Linked DNA regions of Homo sapiens. The protein of the gene in region 2 purifies or fractionates together with the protein of the main gene of each other region. This does not show direct contact. Each region holds a gene or a part of one and is shown on either strand. Other genes may lie near its edges.

The links.
Region 1: the proteins of HMGA2 (region 2) and XPC purify together in Homo sapiens (affinity purification with mass spectrometry; one large-scale study listed by BioGRID and IntAct). This does not show direct contact.
Region 3: the proteins of HMGA2 (region 2) and LIG3 purify together in Homo sapiens (affinity purification with mass spectrometry; one large-scale study listed by BioGRID and IntAct). This does not show direct contact.
Region 4: the proteins of HMGA2 (region 2) and TOP3A purify together in Homo sapiens (affinity purification with mass spectrometry; one large-scale study listed by BioGRID and IntAct). This does not show direct contact.
Region 5: the proteins of HMGA2 (region 2) and PARP2 purify together in Homo sapiens (affinity purification with mass spectrometry; one large-scale study listed by BioGRID and IntAct). This does not show direct contact.
Region 6: the proteins of HMGA2 (region 2) and NDUFAF7 purify together in Homo sapiens (affinity purification with mass spectrometry; one large-scale study listed by BioGRID and IntAct). This does not show direct contact.

The regions. Positions count from the first base shown.
Region 1 is NC_000003.12:14,158,102-14,161,601, forward strand, and holds part of XPC (DNA repair protein complementing XP-C cells), read right to left. Parts: intron 1,730-3,500; coding exon 1,640-1,729; intron 792-1,639; coding exon 1-791. UniProt on the Homo sapiens protein: Involved in global genome nucleotide excision repair (GG-NER) by acting as damage sensing and DNA-binding factor component of the XPC complex. Has only a low DNA repair activity by itself which is stimulated by RAD23B and RAD23A.
Region 2 is NC_000012.12:65,834,483-65,837,982, forward strand, and holds part of HMGA2 (high mobility group protein HMGI-C), read left to right. Parts: intron 1-3,500.
Region 3 is NC_000017.11:34,990,512-34,994,011, reverse strand, and holds part of LIG3 (DNA ligase 3 isoform alpha precursor), read right to left. Parts: intron 3,050-3,500; coding exon 2,898-3,049; intron 2,342-2,897; coding exon 2,175-2,341; intron 2,055-2,174; coding exon 1,977-2,054; intron 1,489-1,976; coding exon 1,320-1,488; intron 1-1,319. UniProt on the Homo sapiens protein: Isoform 3 functions as a heterodimer with DNA-repair protein XRCC1 in the nucleus and can correct defective DNA strand-break repair and sister chromatid exchange following treatment with ionizing radiation and alkylating agents.
Region 4 is NC_000017.11:18,308,495-18,311,994, forward strand, and holds part of TOP3A (DNA topoisomerase 3-alpha), read right to left. Parts: intron 448-3,500; coding exon 388-447; intron 1-387. UniProt on the Homo sapiens protein: Releases the supercoiling and torsional tension of DNA introduced during the DNA replication and transcription by transiently cleaving and rejoining one strand of the DNA duplex.
Region 5 is NC_000014.9:20,350,135-20,353,634, reverse strand, and holds part of PARP2 (poly [ADP-ribose] polymerase 2), read right to left. Parts: intron 3,110-3,500; coding exon 3,013-3,109; intron 2,589-3,012; coding exon 2,513-2,588; intron 1,391-2,512; coding exon 1,288-1,390; intron 1-1,287. UniProt on the Homo sapiens protein: Poly-ADP-ribosyltransferase that mediates poly-ADP-ribosylation of proteins and plays a key role in DNA repair.
Region 6 is NC_000002.12:37,238,158-37,241,657, forward strand, and holds part of NDUFAF7 (protein arginine methyltransferase NDUFAF7, mitochondrial), read left to right. Parts: intron 1-3,420; coding exon 3,421-3,500. UniProt on the Homo sapiens protein: Arginine methyltransferase involved in the assembly or stability of mitochondrial NADH:ubiquinone oxidoreductase complex (complex I).

The DNA.
Region 1 (3,500 bases), on a different chromosome or scaffold from region 2:
CGGGTCACTGTCATCCAGACTGGGTCGTACCTCTGTGTGACATCTCGGACCCAGCCGTCACTGTCAATGCCCACCACATAGGTCATGGGCTTGGTGGCGTACTTGTAACAGGTCAGAGGCTGGCCCACCACACCGTGCACACAGTCTACACATACCCACTTTTCCTCCTGCTCACAGAACACCTCTAGCCACTGGTCTATACCAGCTATGCTTCTTTTTTCTGCCTTCTCACCATCGCTGCACATTTTCTTGCCTCTTTTACTGCTTGAAGAGCTTGAGGATGCCGCTGGCAAGCTTGGGTCCTTACGATGGCTCCCACGATGGGTCCTGGAGGCACTCTTGGACCCAGCCTTTGTCCTCTGAGGAGCGGGGGCTTTCCTCTGCTTTGGAGGGCCAGGTTCGGAATCCTCATCAGAGGGATCAGAGGCTTCTCCACTGGAGAGCTCAAAATCAGAGCCGCTGCCAGCCTCATCACTCCCACTCTCCTCTTTATAAGACACCCTGGAGGCCACCCGCCGCTCCCGGCCATGCGGACGTCGCTGGGTTGCCTTCTCCTGCTTGTCTCCTGGGCCCTCATCTTCCTCGCTGGAGGAGGGCTTGCTCCGTTTCTTTCTGCCTCCCTTGTTCCTCTTCCCTTTGGCACTTGGCCTGCAGGTGCCCTTAGCAAAGGTTTCCTCTTGTTTGGTTCCTTTGCTGGTCTTTGGTTTGGTGTGGTTTTCTAGAACTTGGCTGGAAGTTTCTGAGGAGCCTCCTGGATCCGCAGTCAATCTTTCCTTGGAAGGTTTCTTTCCCTTAAACAGAATAAGAAATTTTGCTTTTTTTTCTCCCCCCTCTTTTGCTAATGATATGATAGAAATCCTGTAATCTAATAGGGTTAAGTCACCAGCTAGAGAACCAATACATCAAGATGTCCCCAGCTCAGACAGTGATCAACCAGCTATCCTTCAGGGTTGTATGTATGTATTGGCTAAAATCTGTAGCATCTTAGATAAGGCCACAGTATAATTCTTTTCACCCTAACTGTAAAGAGAAAAGAACATGGGATTTGGACAGCCAAACATGGGTCTGAATTCCAGTTCTAACTCTTATTGGTTACGTAAATTAGGTAAATTACTTAACCTCCGAGTTTCAGTTTCCTCAGCAGTACTACTACCCACCTTGGACATACGCATTTTGCAAACAAATACTTATGGACTTAATACAGCTGTAGTTTTAAGAATACAGATATTATGAAAATCAGCTTCTAGACCATCAGGCTTCAGACAATGCCAATACCCCAATGAGTACAGCATTTAGCTTCTTGAAGCTAACCCAGACCACCTCAAAATCCACAGTGCTTCACTCATCAGCACTCCACGGAGCAAGCAAGGACAGGCACCATTCCACACAATTTACAGAACAGAACAAAAGCAGCACTGGGCCGAGGCCTCTCACAGGCCACTCTGCACACGTGAAGTTCAGGCTGCTAGATACCCACTCACATGCCCAAGTCTTCCCTAACACAGGGTATGTGCAAGGCTCGAAAGAACCCACACTCCGTGAATACCAGCTCTTAAAAAATATAATAATGATCAATTTTTTTAAGTGTGACAATTTCCTGTCAATTGCTCCTCTTCTCTGGCAGCCCTGCGCACCTCACCTTTGCTGTTGCTGACTTCAGAGGAATTGGCTGTAGAGACAATACCAGCCGGGTCAAGAGCTGCAGAGCCCGGAGAATCAGTAAGAATATCTATGATGAAAAGGAAGAACATAGTTATCCTAAGAAAGTAATTAAAGATGTAATGAGTTCAATGTTGTTTGTTATGGTGCTTGTTCAAGACAGGGAAAAGCTGGAAACAGCCAGACTGTCTAACAGTAGGCGACGGAAACTCCAGACACTGTTAAAAACGATGATGCAGAAGTTTATCTTCGTAGAAGAACAGGAACATGCTCATCATATATTAAAGGAAAATAGAAGTTTTCCTTTAAAAAGTATGATGTGATTACATTTTTATAAGAAAAATATGTATATATAAATTTAGACATACACGTATATTTGAAAAAGCATCCATATACTGGGTTATGGGTGTTTACATGCTTTTTTTCTCTGCTTACCTACCTTCTGATTGTTCTGTAGTCAATATGTGTTGCGTTTGTGACTAAAATAATAAAATGAAATACCACTTTGGGAAGAAGAAGTAGAAAGTATCATTATCGTCAGATCACCAGGTCTGTTCCCTGTTTTCCAATTTTCCCCACATTGAATCTTTAACTGAGTCTGCAGCTCTGAAAGCTGTTAACTTGGAAGTCTGGGAGCCCCTCAGGGGACTTAACTCCAATGGCAACAGTGATAATGTACTCGGCCAAGGCCTTCCTACACGGGTCTCCAGGTCCCAGCATCTCTCCTTGATTACTGCCACAGCCTCGGGAGAAAGTCCGGTGTGAGAAGCCATTGTTATGGTGAGAAAAATGATTGCTTTTGCCTTGTTTCTTCTGCGGCTAAAAATTTCCAAAGTGTCAAGGTCATGAAAGACAGGGAAAGCCCAAAACACTGTCACACACTGGAGGAGACTAAGGAGACATGATGACTAAATACAAACTGGTATCATGGAACAGAAAAAGGATATCAGTGAGAAAACGTGGAAAATCCAAATAATGTCTGTAGTTTAGCTGATGGCATTGTACCAGTATTAATTTCTCAGTTTCTTCTTGTACAGCATGGCACAGGAGCACAGGTCCAGAAGTCTGGATAACTAAGTGTTCACCACTAGCTGAGTGACTTCCCTAAGCCTGGATTTCTGCATCTAGAATAATCCCTGCCTCGGCTTCCTCACAGGACTCTAAAGAGGATTAGACAAGATAATGCAGGTGACAGGACTCTGGAAACAGTCTAGTGCTACCCAAGCATACACAGTCACCACCTTTAGTAAGAAATCTATCAATGTACATTGCTGAGGAAAAAAATCAGGTTACAGAACTGTACGATCCCTACAAATTAGATAACATAGAGAAAATGGACAAAATCCCAGAAACATACATATATGACCAAACCTGACTCAAGAAGTAATGGAAAATCTGAACAGATCTGTAATAACAGATCGAGTCAGAACTCAAAAACCTCCCAACAAAGAAAATGTCTAGGACTAGATGACCTCACTGGTGAATTCTAGCAAATATTTAAAGTGGAATTTACCTCAATCTTTCTCCAACTCTTTCAAACGTTAGAAGAGGAAATATTTTTTAACTTGTTCTATGAGGCAAGCATTACCCTGACACCAAAGCCAGACAAATACATCACAAGAAAATAAACCAATTTATGAATATAGATGCAAAAATCCTGAATAAAATACTAAAAAACAAATTGAACATATGAAAAGGCTTATACAACATGACCAAGTGGTACTTATCCTAGGAATGCAAGGATGGTTCAACATAAGAAAATCAATCAATTAAATATACATTAATAGAATGAAGGAAAGAAAATCCAGAGGATCATTTCAACTGACAAAGAAAAACGCACC
Region 2 (3,500 bases):
TAAACACTTTTCCTTCCTTTCCTCTTGCCCTCCCTCCCTCCCTTCTTCCTCCTTCCTTTTTTTCCTTCCTTCCTTCTTTCCTTCCCTCCCTCACTCCCTCCCTTCCTCCCTTCCTCCCTCCCTCCCTCCGTTCCTCCCTGCCTCTCTCTTTGCCTCCCTCCTTCCCTTCCTTCAACAAGTATATAGTGAACACCTCCTGTACACGAGGCACTAGTGCTAAGCACTGTTTTCAAGCTCAAGAGATGTATTTGCTAGTGAATTTCTTTCCTAATTAGTTTTTAAAATATGCAGTACATTGAAGAGCCTGGAGTACAGAACTTCTTAGAGAAAGAAATAATTATATTTCCCATTTAACATTTCTCCTAATCTTCATGGACTTGCTTCTAAATATATCATAAAATTAAGTGTACAGTTTTGAATCTGAAGTTTAAAACATAAAAATATTAATGAGGGCAAACAAGGGAGAAATGACACTTTTAATGAGATATGATTGTTGTAAATATTCGCATAATAGTGCTGGTAACAGTCTGAAATTTCAGTTCTTACCAATGAGAATTCCGACCATATCTCCCTTTTCTCTCTTGATGTGAGCAATAAATAGTGAGAATTAGTTATGCCTCTGTTATACATGGGTTTGTAGTATAAAGCCAAATTCTATTCTGGCAAAGGAAAACCAAATATACACTTCTACAGTATTGCATATGTTAAAACAAAACAAGCCTCCTGAATGTTTTGTTTGTCTTTTTTGAAAAATAATATCCTGAAGAGCATTAAACACAGGAAAACAATATTAAAGCTGATGTTTTCCAATATGTAAAAATCCTGGATCTAAGCTGGTTTACAAACTAAAACCCTAACTTGTTTTGCAGCCTTTGTGGAGTTTGATTAGAATGATTAAATAATGTGGGTTTTAAAGAACAATGAAAACCTCCCAGATTGACGCCACACAGCACAGCTAATGTGTTTCTTCTAGATGTAGTCTCAGAAGAGGGTTTCAGTTTACATGTAACACTGGCCTGAACGACCAAGGAGCAAGTTTGCTTTTAACAAGTCCGAGTGATAATCGTGATATTTTGCCCTTTAGTTAATGGTGCAAATTTTATTTCTCAATAGGCTTTTTGTAAATGAGATGCTCATTTAAAAGTCATCTTATTTGCAGGGCTTTTTCTGTTTTTGAGAGATTTGCTTTCTCTGATTTTGAAATACAGTGAAACTCTTTCAGAAAAAAAACCTCTCTCTTCAATAGATTTTAGATACACCCAGATCACATCATGGCCCCTGAAACATAACAACCGTGCAGAAAAAGCCTGGTGTAGCACTGTTAACTTCTAAGGTCAATAGGCTCCTTCTCCCACCCTGACTTCACACCCCCTTTTCAATAAAAAGGATTTCTATTTTCCATGTTTGTGTAATTTACTACTGGGTTAACTGTGCAATCTTACAGTTGCTTCCAAAGATTAAGTCAGATGCTGCTTCTGTGCTAGAGAACTCCACACTCATGTATAACTCACTATGCAATAGCCAAAGGGATCCTTAAAAGCCTCATTCTAAAGGTGACAGATGGGTGTGAAGGAATACTTGCATTGACCAAGGCTTCTGTGAGAGGAAACTAACTTGAAGAAAAACTCCCTTTCTGGGAGGCAGAGGCGGGCGGATTACGAGGTCAGGAGATCGAGACCATCCTGGCTAACATGGTGAAACCCCGTCTCTACTAAAAATACAAAAAATTAGCCGGGTGTGGTGGCAGGCGCCTGTAGTCCCAGCTACTTGAGAGGCTGAGGCAGGAGAATGGAGTGAACCCGGGAGGCGCAGCTTGCAGTGAGCAGAGACCGCGTCACTGCACTCCAGCCTGGGCGACAGAGCGAGACTCCGTCTCAAAAAGAAAAAAAAAAAAAAAGAAAAACTCCCTTTAAGGGTTCCATCTAGTTAGGAGTGAAAGAACACTTATGGAGCACCTCATGGGAGGCAGGAACTTCTAAGTACTTCTAGGAATGATGTCTCACAGGAGGAGTCATCTCCATTGCACGGATGAAACCAAATTGAGGTCTTCAAGGACCTGCCCAAAGTCATAAAGCTAAAATGGAAGAGCAGGAATTGGAATCTAAGCGTTCCAAGGTAGAGTCTGTGATCTTCTCAGGGCACCTCCCTCTCCATGAGGCAATGCTCTGAAGAGGGTATTATTTACTTGACACTCTGGGCTTTCGCTAAATTCATGCCCTTGGGACTGAAGGTAAGACAATGCCACTAACCTCTGACAACAAATGATTCCTTTGTGGAGCCATTCAAAAGTGATAATAAACAATGATTCAGAGTGTCCAAATCAGATGGTTAGATAGAACCCCTAAAGGCTACCAGGTTTTCTTTTGTCCTGGGAAATTAACTGAATCAGTGACAATTTTAGTTTCCTAAAGTATTTTTTTATGGTAGCAAATGCTTGTATACTACCGGGTAGTAGCATTGTTAAGAGGCTAGGAGCACAGTCTTTACAGTTAGACAAAACTGGGTTCAAATCCCAGGTCTGCCACTTACCTGCTTTGTTTGTGACCTTGAGCCAGTTGTATACCTAACCTATCTAAGACTTAGTTGTTCATCTACAAAATAAGAGGAATAATAATACCCACTTTATAAGGCTGCTGTAAGGATTAACGTAACACATGTGACTGACAATCGAGTGCCTGGGATATTTTAAATGCTCAATATTTGTGAGTTAACATTACAGTCATATAGAGTTTGCGTTAATTCATGGGACCTGTTGGATAGTAATGCCAGATCAGGGAGATACTATTTGGTGAGAAATGTTGTGGCTTATTTTATCTCTCATCTACCTGTCTGTCTATCTGCCTATCCATCTATCTGTTTGTCAACTATCATGTAAAGCTATTTGTTTTTACCAGGCAGATTGAAGAGAAAAAGAGGAAAGTTTCATTTGGCAGTGTAGACAGTCAATATCACTGTACCAAGTACCCCCACCGGCTGCTAACTCAGATAACAAAAGTAAAATGTGGAACAAGGTATCCTGGTTCAAGTTACCTGTATTTGTGTGTTAATATAGCCATGGATGATTCTTATACATGAAACAATATGTACTAAGTTTTCTTTATCCTAAAAAGCAGGAACACGTTTTTATAGATGTATGTGATATGTGTGTGTATTGGTGTGTTGTTGTGTATGAAGATTGGACTAGGGCTGACAAAAACGGAAAAACTAATTGCTTTATAAATAATGTTAACAACTGTGATATCAGAAAAATCTTCTGTGAAGTAAAGCAATGAAATAAACTCTCAAGATAGAAATGTATTCATGTTAAGTGTGGGATTATGGTTAATAAAGTACATTTTTAATTAATCATTATTTCTAGGCACATATAGTTTTAATCACTGGGACAAACTGATGATTTCTGCCTGCTTTTTTTTCCTCTGCTTTAGGTGAACTGATTGACAGGTGATTGTTTCAGGCAAGGAACATTAAATTAAACATGTAGAAGTGTGCAAATATTTGTT
Region 3 (3,500 bases), on a different chromosome or scaffold from region 2:
AAGTAAAAGCCCAGTGAAACAAGATTTAATTCTTTTCTCAATAATTCAGGCCTTGCAAGACCTCTGGCTTATTATAAAACACATCAGTTCTCCCAGTAAAAGAGGTATGTGAAGCTAAGGTTAAAGAGTGCAGGTGACAGTGAGGCTGGCAGGGTGAGTGATCGTGGGTCCCTACAACAAACAGGGTTTCCAGATATTGGAGCACCTACTTACATGCCTACCTGTGCTAGCCTAACTCAAACAACAATAGCTACCATTTTGGGAGCGCTTCACATACATAATCTCATTTCATCCCCGATGTGACATCCTATGTGACAAATATTGTTTTCATTTTTGGATGATAAAACTGAAGGTTAGAGAGAATAGGTGCTTGCTTAAGTTACACTAAAAAATGGCAAGAATGAGATTTGAATCTAGGCCCACCTATAAAACCTGTGTGGTTAACCACTAAGCTATATAACCCATGCCAGTCTTTAAATGACAAACTATAGAACAGACTCCAGGAGGCATTTTTATAAAAGTCAGAAAGGCCACTACTGCAGGTGGCCGCAGTCCCATCTCTGGGATGGAGATCTCACTGTTTTGATGCTGGCTATCCCACATTCCTAGCAGGGAGAGAACACTTGCCTATCTCAAACATAAAACCCTAAACCAAGGTTTTAGTATGACAAACAAGACAGTTTCAAAAAAAGCACTGTACATCACTCAAAAATCCAAAGAATCTCACAGTAGGCATGGCACCATATGTGGTGGGCCCTGTCACACAGGAAAACCAACACTGGAAAGGAAACCCCATTTCTTACGAAATGAGCAGAGGCCTAAGATGATGTCTGTCAGAGTCAGCCTTCATTCCTTATGTGTCCTCCCTCTTCCCAAGTCACCCTGTCACAGGAAGCCTGGCTCTGCTACCAACTCTCAGATCTACTTTGCAGTAGGTCACAGAATCTCAGGGGTTACTTAATACATCCGTCTTCAGGTAAGATAACAGATAAATCATTCTAGGGGGATGCCTCAGGCAGTCTCAGACGTCATCCACACAGGAGACTGAAGGACAAGAGAGGCAAGTCACTCATCTAAGATTCTACAGCATCTTGGTGGCGTAGCTGGGCCTACAACTCAGGTCTTTCCACTAGATCCTCTGTCTTCTCCTTTGCCTTCGCCTCCTACAGAGAAATACCCCCTTGCACCTCCCTCTTCCTTCCCTAAACTTCTCCAGTCAATTTGCAAGTGCTCTCAACACTCATACCCTATCTGATCTCAGCCCAAAGGATGTGGAGCTTGGAGAGGCTGGAAAGCAGAGGCAGGGGAGCACTCCTCACCAACATGGGCTGCACAGGTGTCATCAGCGAGGCCTGGACGCTCAGAGCTCGTCTCTGGCCCGGCTCCTTCTCCACCTCCTGCGCGTTGTGAAGGACCCGCTCCACCACATCCTGCAGGTTGCGCGAGGCTTTGAAGGCTTCATAGGCATTGGGGTCAAGGGCGTCTAACCTGCCAAGGGGTACAGGAACAAGGAAACAAAACCACTGCCTTTGTTTGACTCCATGGCTTTGGACAGCAATCTGTCCTCACAGAAGAAATCCTCATCTGTAGGGAAGGGGTTGTGTTCTATTGTCTAAAGACTTTCACAAGAGGAGAGAAAGCTCTTGGAAAATTCAGCTCTTTTGAGATACTGTGCCTATGTGGATGCCGCCTTAGCGAGGAGGGGGCTGGAGTAGGCAAGAGACTCATACTATACTCACTGAACGTATGCCACACTTCAACTGTAAGAACTCTGTGAGAAAGGTACTGTTATCTCCATTTTATATGGGAAAAAATGGAGGCAGAGACAGGTCAAGTGACAGATCAGGGTCTCACAGAAAGTAAGAAGGTGGAAGGGGGATTCAAATCCTGACTGGGACTCAAAAGTCCTGACACCAGTTGGGAACAAACAAAGCTAACAAATGACAGCTCAGGCTGTCAGCGGAGCTGCTACTTACACATGTTTTGCACCTGAGTTCATCTTCAGATCATGTTTGATCAACCTGATGATGCATTTAAGGTCATTGGCTGTACACCTAGGGGGATGAAGCACATTTAACTTGGTCTTGAAGAGCTCTGGAACCCCAAGGGAACCTTCCCTTCCCAAGAGAGTTCATCTCTCTATGGGCATGGTTTGACGGAGGCAGCTCCCCCACCTGGAGGCAATGTCCTGTAGGGCCTGTTGCTGCTCATCCTCCTTGGTGAGCTTGGACAGCCGCAGAAGGAACTCATCCACTTCCTGGATGGTAAGGAGGCTCTTGGCAGCTGGGGGGAAAGACTTGCTCTGCTCAAAGAAGACTCTGATTGTCTCTGACACGTCACCCTGTCTCCAAAAACCAAAATGCCACTGCTGCAACCCTAGGGTGGCCAAGTGTATCCCCCAAGACCCAGGACTGAAGATGAATCAAGAAATTTCAATCATAGCTCCTATCCCAACTCAACATATCTAGCCCACTTCTTAGAGACACTAGCCCATCCACAATTCCTAGAAGGGGATGGAAACTTGCCATGGTACCAGGGATAGAGTCACGGACAAACCAAAGCTTGGTAAAGCCAAGTTATAGGAGAAAACAAGCAAGAAAAAAAGAGTCCAGAATAAAAGCCCCAGGAGAGACAGAGGGGGCAAGTCTCAAATTCTGCCTTTTGAGAACCAGGCCTTTGTGGTTCAGCAGTTGTATGGTTTCCACCCTCAGAAACTTAAGAAATTAAGAGCTATAGCCTCACATTCAGCTCCCCCTATAACGGAAGCTTGCTCAAATGGGTTTCAGTTTCCTAAAACAGTATGTGTCCCAACCAGAAAAAAAAAAAGAGGCTGCAGGTGCCTGGCTTGGCAAAACCCCACCTGGAATGTAGCCTACCCTCCCTCCCGTTCCTCTGACCTGCTCTAGGTCCCGTGCCATATCATCTGGGTTGCAGTTAAAAATGCGACTGAAAAGCTTCACAATCTGCTTATCGTTCAAGTTGTAAACAGTCTTAATGACTCCTGGCAGCAGCAGCTTCACTGTTAGGTACACATCACCGTGGAAACCATCTGGAGACAGAAGGAACCCTTCTTGAGAAATAGAGCTTAAACAAATAAATATATAAACTCAAAGAAGGCTGGGCAAGGTGGCTCACACCTGTAATCTCAGCACTTTGGGAGGCCGAAGCAGGAGAATTGCTTAAGCTCACAAGTTTGAGACCACCCTGGCAACAAAGAAAGACCCCATCTCTACAAAAAATTAAAAAATTAGCTGGACATGGTGGCATATGCCTATGGTTCCAGCTACTTGCAGGAGAAGACAGGAGGGTTGCTTTAGCTCAGGAGGTCGAGGCTATAGTGAGCTGTGATCACACCACTGTACTCCAGCCTGGGCGACAGAGCAAGACACTGTCTCACACACACACACAAAAATAAATAAAAAAATAAACTCAGACCGCGCATGGTGGCTCACGCCTGTGATCCCAGCACTTTAGCAGGTTGAGGTAGGCAGATTAATTGA
Region 4 (3,500 bases), on a different chromosome or scaffold from region 2:
AGAGGGAGGAGCTTCTATTAAAGACATTTTTAAAAACCTGATTGGGAAGAAATAAACATAAATATAAGCTCTTCAAAGCCAAAAGTCACAGGAATACAATCACCATTCTAATGATATGGTGTATAACTGACGCCTCTTGCATCAGTTAAATTTTCCTCAAACTATTGTATATTAGCTTTTTTTTTTTGTAATGAAGAGCTGAGATGGGACCATATTTTATTAAAAAGAGAACTCCTCATAAATTATAAAGTGATCACCCCATATCCAGGAACCTTTAGGTTGTTAACAGTTGTTATTCTTAAGACAGCGACATATTCTACATATGACGAGGCTGACTACTTTCTCTTGCTTATGATTGAAATATTTTAGAAATATTTTAGCACCTACCTGGCCATACAGATGATAATCAAATTCATAGATCTTGTTGAATTTTGAAAGTCCTTCTCTCTATAAAACAAAAATAAGTAAAAAATATAAATTACGTTTAAAACAATGGATTCCTTTGTATAATTCTTTCTGATCCTGAATTTGGCAATGATTTCTTGGTTATGATACCAAAAATATAACCAACATTGCTCCAAAGAAGATAAGAAATGGCCAACAAGCATATGAAAAGATGCTCAATGTTATTAATCATTAGGAAAACACAAATCAAAACCATGATGAGGTACCACTCCATACCCATTAGGATAATAATTAAATAGAATAATAAAAAAAACAAGTAAAATAACAAGTGTTGTTGAGGATGTGGAGAAATTGGACATTGTCAGTGGAAATGTAAAATGCTTTGGCCACTCTGGAAAATGTTGGTGTTTCCTCAAAAAGTTACAGAGTTATCACATGTCACAGCAATTCCACTCCTACAAATTTACCCAAAAGAATTAAAAACGCATTCAAATACACTTTGGGAGGCTGAGACAGTTGGATCACTTTAGGTCAGGAGTCCGAGACCAGCCTGGCCAACATGGTGAAACCCCATCTCTACTAAAAATACAACAATTGGCCAGGTGTGGTGGTGTGTGCCTGTAATCCCAGTTACTTGGGGAGGCTGAGGCAGGAGAATCACTTGAGCCCAGGAGGTGGACGTTGCAGTGAGTGGAGATGGCGCCACTGCACTCTAGCCTGGGTGACAGAGCGAGACTGTCTCAAAAAACAAAAAACAAACAAAAAAACACATTCAAACAAAAACTTGTACATGAAAGTCTATAGAAGTTCTTTTTTTTTTTTTTTTTTGAGATGGAGTCTGGCTCTGTCGCCCAGGCTGGAGTCCAGTGGCGTGATCTCGGCTCACTGCAAGCTCCACCTCCCGGGTTCACACCATTCTCCTGCCTCAGCCTCCCGAGTAGCTGGGACTACAGGCACCTGCCACCACGCCCGGCTAATTTTTTTGTATTTTTAGTAGAGATGGGGTTTCACCGTGTTAGCCAGAATGTTCTCAATCTCCTGACCTCGTGATCCACCTGCCTCGGCCTCCCAAAGTGCTGGGATTACAGGTGTGAGCCACCACGCCCAGCGAATGTCTATAGAAGTTCTATTCACAATAGTCAAAAGATGAAAACAACCCAAATGTCCATCAACTGATGTATGGTAAAATGAAATATGATCTATCCATATGATAGAATATTATTCAGCCATAAAAAGGAATGAAGAGGCCAGGTGCAATGGCTCATGCCTGTAATTCCAGCACTTTGGGAGGCTGAGGTGGGCGGATCATGAGGTCAGGAGTTTGAGACCAGCCTGGCCAACATAGTGAAACCCTGTCTCTACTAAAAATACAAAAAATTAGCTGGGCGTGGTGGTGGGTGCCTGTAATCCCAGCTACTTGGGAGGCTGAGGCAGGAGAATCGCTTGAACCTGGGAGGCGGTGGTTACAATGAGCCGAGATCTCATCACTGCACTCCAGCCTGAGCGACAGTGAGAGAGACTCCTTCTCAAAAACCAAAAAAAAGGAATGAAGAACTGATATTAATACATGGTACAACATGGATGGACTTCAAGATTATGTTAAGTGAAAGAAACCTGACACAAAAGAGCATGTAAGATATGGGTCCACTTATAGGAAATGCCCAGAACAGGCAAATCCATGGGGAAAGAAGGCAGATTCGTGGTTGTGAGGGGCTGAGGAGAGGGTAAGGGGAGTGACTGCTTAATGGATATGAGGCTTCCTCTTGGGGTGAAAAAAAACCTTCTGGAACTAGATAATGATGATGGTGGCACATTTAGTGGACAAAATTCCACTGAACTATATACTTCAAAATGATTAAAATGGTCAATTTTCTGTGCATTTTACCACTCAACCTACATGGCTCTCTAAGATTCTTATGATCTGCACTCAACTGCTGCTCTTGCTTAACTCATCGGTGTCTCTTCCCACCACACCACACCCCTAACTTCTCACTGTTTCTGAATATGCCAAGCAGTTTCAAGCCACTAGGTTGTTCTTTACAGTTTCTACTGCCTGGTAAAACTTTCAGGCTCAGCTCAAACATGCATTCAACAACTATGAATTTTTTTTTTTTTTTTTGAGACAGAGTCTCACTCTGTTGCCCAGGCTGGAGTGCAGTGGCACAATCTCGGCTCACTGCAAGCTCCACCTCCCGGGTTCATGCCATTCTGCTGCCTCAGCCTCCCGAGTAGCTGGGACTACAGGCGTCTGCCAGCATGCCCGGCTAATTTTTTGTATTTTTAGTAGAGACAGGGTTTCACCGTGTTAGCCAGGATGGTCTCAATCTCTTGACCTCATGATCCGCCCACCTCAGCCTCCCAGAGTGCTGGGATTACAGGTATGAGCCACCATGCCTGGCCTAATTTTTTTTTGAGATGGAGTCTCACTCTGTCGCCCAGGCTGTAATGTAATGGCGCAATCTAGGCTCACTGCAAGCTCCACTTCCCGGGTTGAAGCGATTCTCCTGCCTCAGCCTCGTGAGTAGCTGGGATTACAGGACCCCGCCACCACACCTGGCTAATTTTTGTATTTTTAGTAGAGATGGGGTTTTGCCATGTTGGCCAGGCTGGTCTTGAACTCACGACCTCAGGTGGTCTGCCCGCTTGAGCCTCCCCAACTGCTGGGATTACAGGCATGAGCCGCTGCGCTCAGCCCAAGTATTAATATTTATTGAAAGTTTCCTGCATTCCAGACACCATATTAGGCGTTAGGACATAGCAATTAACAAAATATAATCACTGTCCTTTGGAGTTTAGAGTCCAAGGAGAGGCAGTGACAAAAATCAAATAAATGATCGCACATCCCATTATTTAACTGTAACTAGTAGATGCCTTTCAAGTAGAATAGAGTGCTATGACAGCATGTCAGTAAGGGTCTCTGACCTAGTGTGGGGGAACAGGTGGTGAGGGAAGGATTCCTTGAAGATGAGACATTTCAGCAGCCTCTCTCCTCTAGCCGCCCCAGATGCCAAAAGGAAAGATGGCCAAGGGGAAGAAGTGGCCCTGGCCCCTGTTGTCATGGAGCAGCAGTAGGCCAAAAAGGTGGTAAATCCCAT
Region 5 (3,500 bases), on a different chromosome or scaffold from region 2:
TATCCAGAAGTGAAAACAAATTTAAATGTTAATTGTTTAATCAGTTTGATTTTTTATCACTCCTCTCTTGGTCCATAACAATAAACTTCTGGTGCCAGCCGCAGTGGCTCACGCTTGTAATCCCAGCACTTTGGGAGGCCAAGACGGGCGGATCATGATGTCAGGAGATCGAGACCATCCTGGCTAACATGGTGAAACCCCGTCTCTACTAAAAATACAAAAAAAAATTAGCCGGGCGTGGTGGCGGGCGCCTGTAGTCCCAGCTACTCCGGAGGCTGAGGCAGGAGAATGGCGTGAACCCAGAGGCGGAGCGTGCAGTGAGCCGAGATCGCGCCACTGCACTCCAGCCTGGGCGACAGAGCGAGACTCCGTATCAAAAAAAAACAAAAACAAAAAAACGAAAAAAACAATAAACGTCTGGAAATAGGGCCTAAGATTTTATAAGAAACTTAGTAGGCCGGGCGTGATGGCTCACGCCTGTAATCCCAGCACTTTGGGAAGCTGAGGCGGGTAGATCACCCAAGGTCACGAGTTCAAGACCAGACTGGCCAACATGATGAAACCCTGTCTCTACTAAAAATACAAAAAAAATTAGCTGGGCATAGTGGCGGGCACCTGTAATCCCAGCTACCTGAGAGGCTGAGGCAGAAGAATCGCTTGAACCCGGGAGCTGGAGGTTGCAGCGAGCTGAGACTGAGCCATTGCACTCCAACCTGGGCAACAAGAATCAAACTCCAGCTCAAAAAAAAAAAAAAGAACCTTAGTAAATAACAGAGCCAAGACTAGAAAGGCACATTCTATCCTCATTCTTACTGTCCCTTTGGGATTACAAAGATCAGTGAGAGCACCCCTGAGGTGAGAAGTAGAAAGGATTCAAGATATCCTGGCCTGTCCCAGTCCAGGAATGATCTAAGCTATTCTGCTTTACCCTGAGTAAGAAGAAACAGGAGTAGGTGTGGTGCCTCATGCTTGTAATCTCAGGACTTTGGGAGGCCAAGACAAGAGGACTGCTTGAGCCCAGGAATTCGAGACCAGCCTGGGCAACATAGTGAAACCTCATCTTTACAAAAAAAAAAGAAAAAAAATCAGCTGGGCAGAGTGGCACGTGCCTGTAGTTCCTGATACTGAGGAGGCTGAGGTGGGAGGATCACTTGAGCCTGAGGATCTTGAGGCTGCAGTGAGCCATGATTGTGCCACCCAGCCTGGGCAACAGAGCACAGTTTTGCCTCTAAAAAATAAAATAAAAAAAGAAGATGTGTTTCTTTCGAAAAGTATAGTGAGAGTTACCTGAGTATTGGTGGCATAGTCCATCTGTAGCATATCATATTTTCCAGGCACCTTCTCAAACTTTTCTCGATCTTCCCAATTGTTTTTCGTTTTGTCAAGGAATCTGTAGAGTCCAAGGTGTAAGAAAACTTTACAAATAAAGGTCTACTATGAAGATGGACTTACAAGACAGAAAATCTCCAAAGAATTTATTTTCCAGCACTGAGCTCCTTTACACATCAACTTTCCATAAATCAAAATTAGTCTAATTCTAAATGAGGACACTAAATGGACAAAAAAGCTCTGGAGACAAATGGAATTTAAAAAATGGGAAAAACAATGCTTGTCCTTCCCAAACACCACAAAAGCCATTGAGATTTCAAACAAAAGATATCCATCTAATCTCTTTCCCTGAAAGAAACATGTTCTCCAATTCTCCAGAAAGTTCTTCATCTATATCATAAAGTTTTAAAAATTCTAACTGAATATTCTCTTTTTTTCTTTCCTTTTTTTTGGGGGAGAGTCAGGGGTCTCGCTTTGTTGCCCAGGCTGGTCTCAAACTCCTAGCTTCAAGCAATCCTCCTGCCTCAACCTCCCAAAGTGCTGGGATTACAGGCATCACCGTGCTCAGCCCCTAGTTGAATATTATCTATCCCAGGATAGTCTCCACTTATCCCAAATTTCCTAAATTTGTCAGTCATGTGTTAAATATATTAGATTCTTCTGTTTTTAGTGACTTTCAAGGTATTAGTTTGATTTAATCACTAAGGATGCAGTTTGGTGTTTCAACCACAGAATGTCAGGGTGAAAAGACATTAACATTTAGGCCAAATCACACCTATAAAACGAAAAGTTTTTTATAAGCCACACACTTATAAAATTCTTAGAGAAGGCAGGGCACGGTGGCTCACGCCTGTAATCCCGCACTTTGGGAGGCTGAGGCAGGCGGATCACCTGAGGTCAGGGGTTCGAGACCAGCCTGGCCAACATGGCGAAACCCCATCTCTATTAAAAATACAAAAATTAGCTGGGCGTGGTGGTGGGCGCCTGTAATCCCAGCTACTAGGGAGGCTGAGGCAGGAGAATCACTTAAACCCAGGAGGTGGAGGTTGCAGTGAGCTCAGATCATGCCATTGCACTCCAGCCTGGGCAACAAGAGTGAAACTGTCTAAAAAAAAATTTTTTAGAGAATATACATCTAAGAAGAGGAGGGTATATTTTTTTGTAGTCACTTTTCAGCACTCACTTCTTCTGAAAGATTTCCTTGGCCTTGTTGAGATTGCCTGAACAAGCCACCAGGCTGTGCTGTCCCATTTTCCCAACTGCAAAGGAAATGCCACACATAAGATAGTTCCCTAAGAGTAACAGGCCAGCTCTCCAAGATCTCTCTGCTTAACATCTGACAAACAGGCAGGAAAGGGAGAAGGGAAAGGTGAAAGGATTTAGGGAACTAATCATGTTGATACAAGTTACTTGCTAACTGCCATAGTCTATGAGCACTACTAGCAGTTCAACTATAGAAGAGTTTTCAGACTCAATGGGCTGCTCTTAGTTTTTCCAGTGGGAACTCTAAGGAGGATGCCTGCCATTCCCCAATTTCAAGATGCTCAACTTGATTCCTAAGGCTCTCCCAGACTTCAGAGCCTCTACTGACCCAATTTAAACCCAGAGAATCCTTTGGCCACCCACTAAGCTGCTTCTGACTTTCTGAATGCCAACTCATAAAATCTCAATAAAAATCATTACCTCGGCCCCATCTCATCCAAACACTGAAGTTCCTCTGGGCATCATCTTCTAATAGCTGAATCAGATAGTACTTGTTGTTGTTGAACTGGAGATTGGTCTATGTTGAGTGAAAACAAAAACAAAAAAAAGGAGTTTTGCAAATGGAAATCACATAAACCAATGACTCATCCTTCGTCACAGGTGCCAGTTATTTCCATAAGGAAAAGGATAGCATCAGGCAAGAAAATTAGATTCCTGTAAGATTAAAGATATAAAGAAGAAATAGGGCTTATACATTAAACTTTGGATTCTTAGGAATTAAAGTGGGAGCCTAGAAGCTTCCTAAAACCCTCTATCCAACCTCAAATATCCTACATTGAATGGCTCCTCCAGTTTTTTCCTGCCTCAGCTCCCTATTTAGATATTTTCTAAGCTATATGTGTTTTCCAGCTCCCAATCCACTCCCAATAATTATTTCCCAAATGAAAACAATTTGGATGCTCCAAAGG
Region 6 (3,500 bases), on a different chromosome or scaffold from region 2:
GGCCAGGCATGGTGGCTCAATCCTAGCACTTTGAGAGGCCAAGGTGGGCAGATCACAAGGTCAGGAGTTCGAGACCAGCCTGACCAACATAGTGAAACCCCGTCTCTAGTAAAAATACAAAAATTAGCTGGGCATGGTGGTGTGCATCTGTAATCCAGCTACTCAGGAGGCTGAGGCAGGGAATCGCTTGAACCCAGGAGGCAGAGGTTGCAGTGATTGCTGCAGTGATTGATTGCAGAGCTGAGATTGCGCCATTGCACTCCAGCCTGGTGACAGAGCGAGACTCCGTCTCAAAAAAAAAAAAAAGTTTAGGCTGGGCAAAGTGGCTCATGCCTGTAATCGTAGCACTTTGGGGGGCCAAGGTGGGAGGATTGCTTGAGGCCAAGAGTTCAAGACCAACCTGGCCAACAAAGCAAGACCTCGTCTCTTTTTATATTAAAAAAAAAAAAAGCAGAAGGCATAAAGCAAAAGATTAATATTTCATTTCTTACATTAAAATTAAAAACTTCTTGCTCTACAAATAAACTAGCAGCTTTTTGTTCTTCAGAGACCCCATTAAGAGAGTGATTAGACAAGCCACAGAGTGGGAGAAGTTATTTGTAACACGTAACCAACAGAGAACTAGTAGTTAGAATTATTTAAATAACTCCTTTAGGTCAGTAAGAAGACAGATAACTTGAGAAAAATCAGGCCAAAGATGTGAACAAGTCCATTCATAAAAGAGGAAAATACAAACGGCTAAAAAAGCAAAAAAAAAAAAAAAAAGATTAGTCACATTGGTAGTCAGGAAGATGAAAATTAAAATCACAATGAGATACTACTGTAACCCTTGCCAGATTAGAAAAAAAAGCTAAAAGTCTGTCAACACCAAGTATTGGTGAAGATGTGGATTTGTGGATCAATGGCAACTCTCATATACTGCTTGTAAAACTATAATTTAGTACATCCTTTTTTCTTTCTCTTTTTTTTTTTTTTTTTTGAGACACAGTCTCACTTTGTCACTCAGGCTGGAGTGCAGTGGTACGATCTTGGCTCACTGCAACCTCTGCCTCCCAGGTTCAGGCGATTCTTGTCCCTCAGCCTCTTGAGTAGCAGGGATAATAGGCGTGGATCACTACACCCGGCTAATTTTTTTATTTTTAGTAGAGAAGGGGTTTTACCATGCTGGCCAGGCTGATCTTGAACTCTTGGCTTGAAGTGGTCCGCCTGCCTCGGCCTCCCAGAGTGCTGGGATTACAGGCATGAGCCCCCGTACCCAGCCTTGTACAACCTTTTTGAAAAGCTATTGGCCATTATCTATTAACATCAAAGTTTCTTATATTGTATGACCCAGCAATTTTACTGCTAGTGATATACCCTAGAGAAACTAGTGTATATGTGTACCAGGAGACACATACAAGAAGATAGCAGCATTGTATAAAATAGCGGAAAATAACAGCACAAATGCCCATCGGGGGGTAAATGAATCAGTTAATTGTGGTATAGTCATACAGTGGAATACGAAGTACTGCAAGAATGCGTGAAATCACAGTGGAATATAACAGTGTTCAACATGAAACAAGATGTGTGAAAGTAGCAGTTTGCAAGAGTTCGTATCATATGATTGTATTTATATAAAATCCAAAAAATAGTCAACATTAAACAATATGTATTTGGTGATAAAAATATATTTAGTAACATTTATAAAGAAAAGTCAGGGTGTTATTAACTCAAGATTCAGAATGGTGGTGACTTCCAAGGGTAGAGGGAGTCCACAGGGGCTTTGGAGATAAGGTCATGTCCCATTTATGGTAGATATTCTCTCTTGTATCATTGTTTCTATCAGTCTACGTACTATTTTATGAAAACATTAAAAAGGAGGACAGTTGTTTATAGTACCTGATAAGTAATAGTATTTATTAAACTTTTGTAGTTTTTAGTATTTTGGAACTCATTAGTGTTTTTGAGTTTATTTTATATGTACTTGACAATTCAATGTAAAAAACAAACATGGCTGGGCGCAGTGGCCCATGCCTGTAATCGCAGCACTTTGGGAGTTCGAGGCTCCCAAAGTTCAAGATCAGCTTGGGCAATACGGTGAAACTCCATCTCTACAAAAAATACAAAAATTACCCAGTCGTGGTAGCATGCGTCTGTGGTCGAAGCTAGTTGAGGGGCTGAGATGGGAGGATTGCTTGAGCCCAGGAGGTTGAGGCTGCAGTGAGCTGTGATTATGCCTCTGAGTAACAAAGTGAGACCCTGTCTCAAAAAAAAAACCAAAAAACACCAACACATACTCAATATAAATTTAAATTTCTTGATGCTTTATGGTTTTTGCTTTAAATTAGAAATTAAAGGATTTAAAAAATATATAAAATATATAAACATATGACAAATAAGAATCTTGATTATTTGGGTGAAGAAAGAAAACAAAATCACGAATTTAAATTTCCAGGGCTCTATTTTATGTTTTTCAGCAAGGTCATTTGAATATAAAATATTTAATAAGGACCTCAAATCATATTCTCTTGTTCAAGTACTTTAAAAGTTGATTCCAGAGCCCTTAAAATGTATGAAGGATGCTTTTCCAGACTGAGTCATAAGAAGTCCTAAAAGCCAAAGAATTTAAAGGGTTGTAAAGCAAATAGCCAGAGAAGTGTCAGACCTGTTTTATTTTTGATGTTACCTTCTGAAGGAATTTCTCCTGGGAAGTTTTTCCATTTGTATTTCGATCTCAAAACTAAATTTGGAAAAATCATCTTGTTCATATTATCAGTCTGGATGTGCATATTCATATCTCAAAAGTATTAATTGGAGGCAGATCACCAGTAGAAATTAAATTCAAATGAAAAATAATGTTGATACACTTTATGCTTTTGCTATTGATTTTTTAGCCTTAAAAGATTGGTAAAATATTAGTATTTTCCTTTTTCCCTTGCATGTTTACAACAGTGAAAAAATGTGTAGCTAAATATAGATTGAAAATGTGGCAGACCCCCGAGTTAAGCAGTCAGGTTTTCAGTACCATTCAGATTTGGTTCTTTGAGGTTAGAGTTCTCATCATCTCAAAGATGAGATTACTTCCTAGACCTAGAGATGTTATCAAATCAAGGCTGTGTACATTTTATTTCCTTGGTCTTTTTTTAGACTCCATAATCTGAATCATTGTTTTTATCAGATGCCAAATCTTTTATTTTCATTTGTTAATCATAATTTATCATTAGGAAACCAAATTGTGCATTGTTCATTTCTTATTTAGATTATGCTTAATAACTAGTAGGTTAGGATTCTTATAGACTGCTGGAGAGTGGCTTGGGTAAGGAACACATCTCTCTGAAATATTACCTCTATTGTGACATGACTAAATCATTGATGTAAATGATTAGGAAACTTAAAACCTACTTAACACATTGTATTTTTTTTTCTTCTTTTGGTATTTAGGTGTTCACTCAACTTGGATCTGTGCTGAAAAATTGTGACATTTCAGTACATCTGGTAGAGGTAAGCCAAAAATTAAGTGA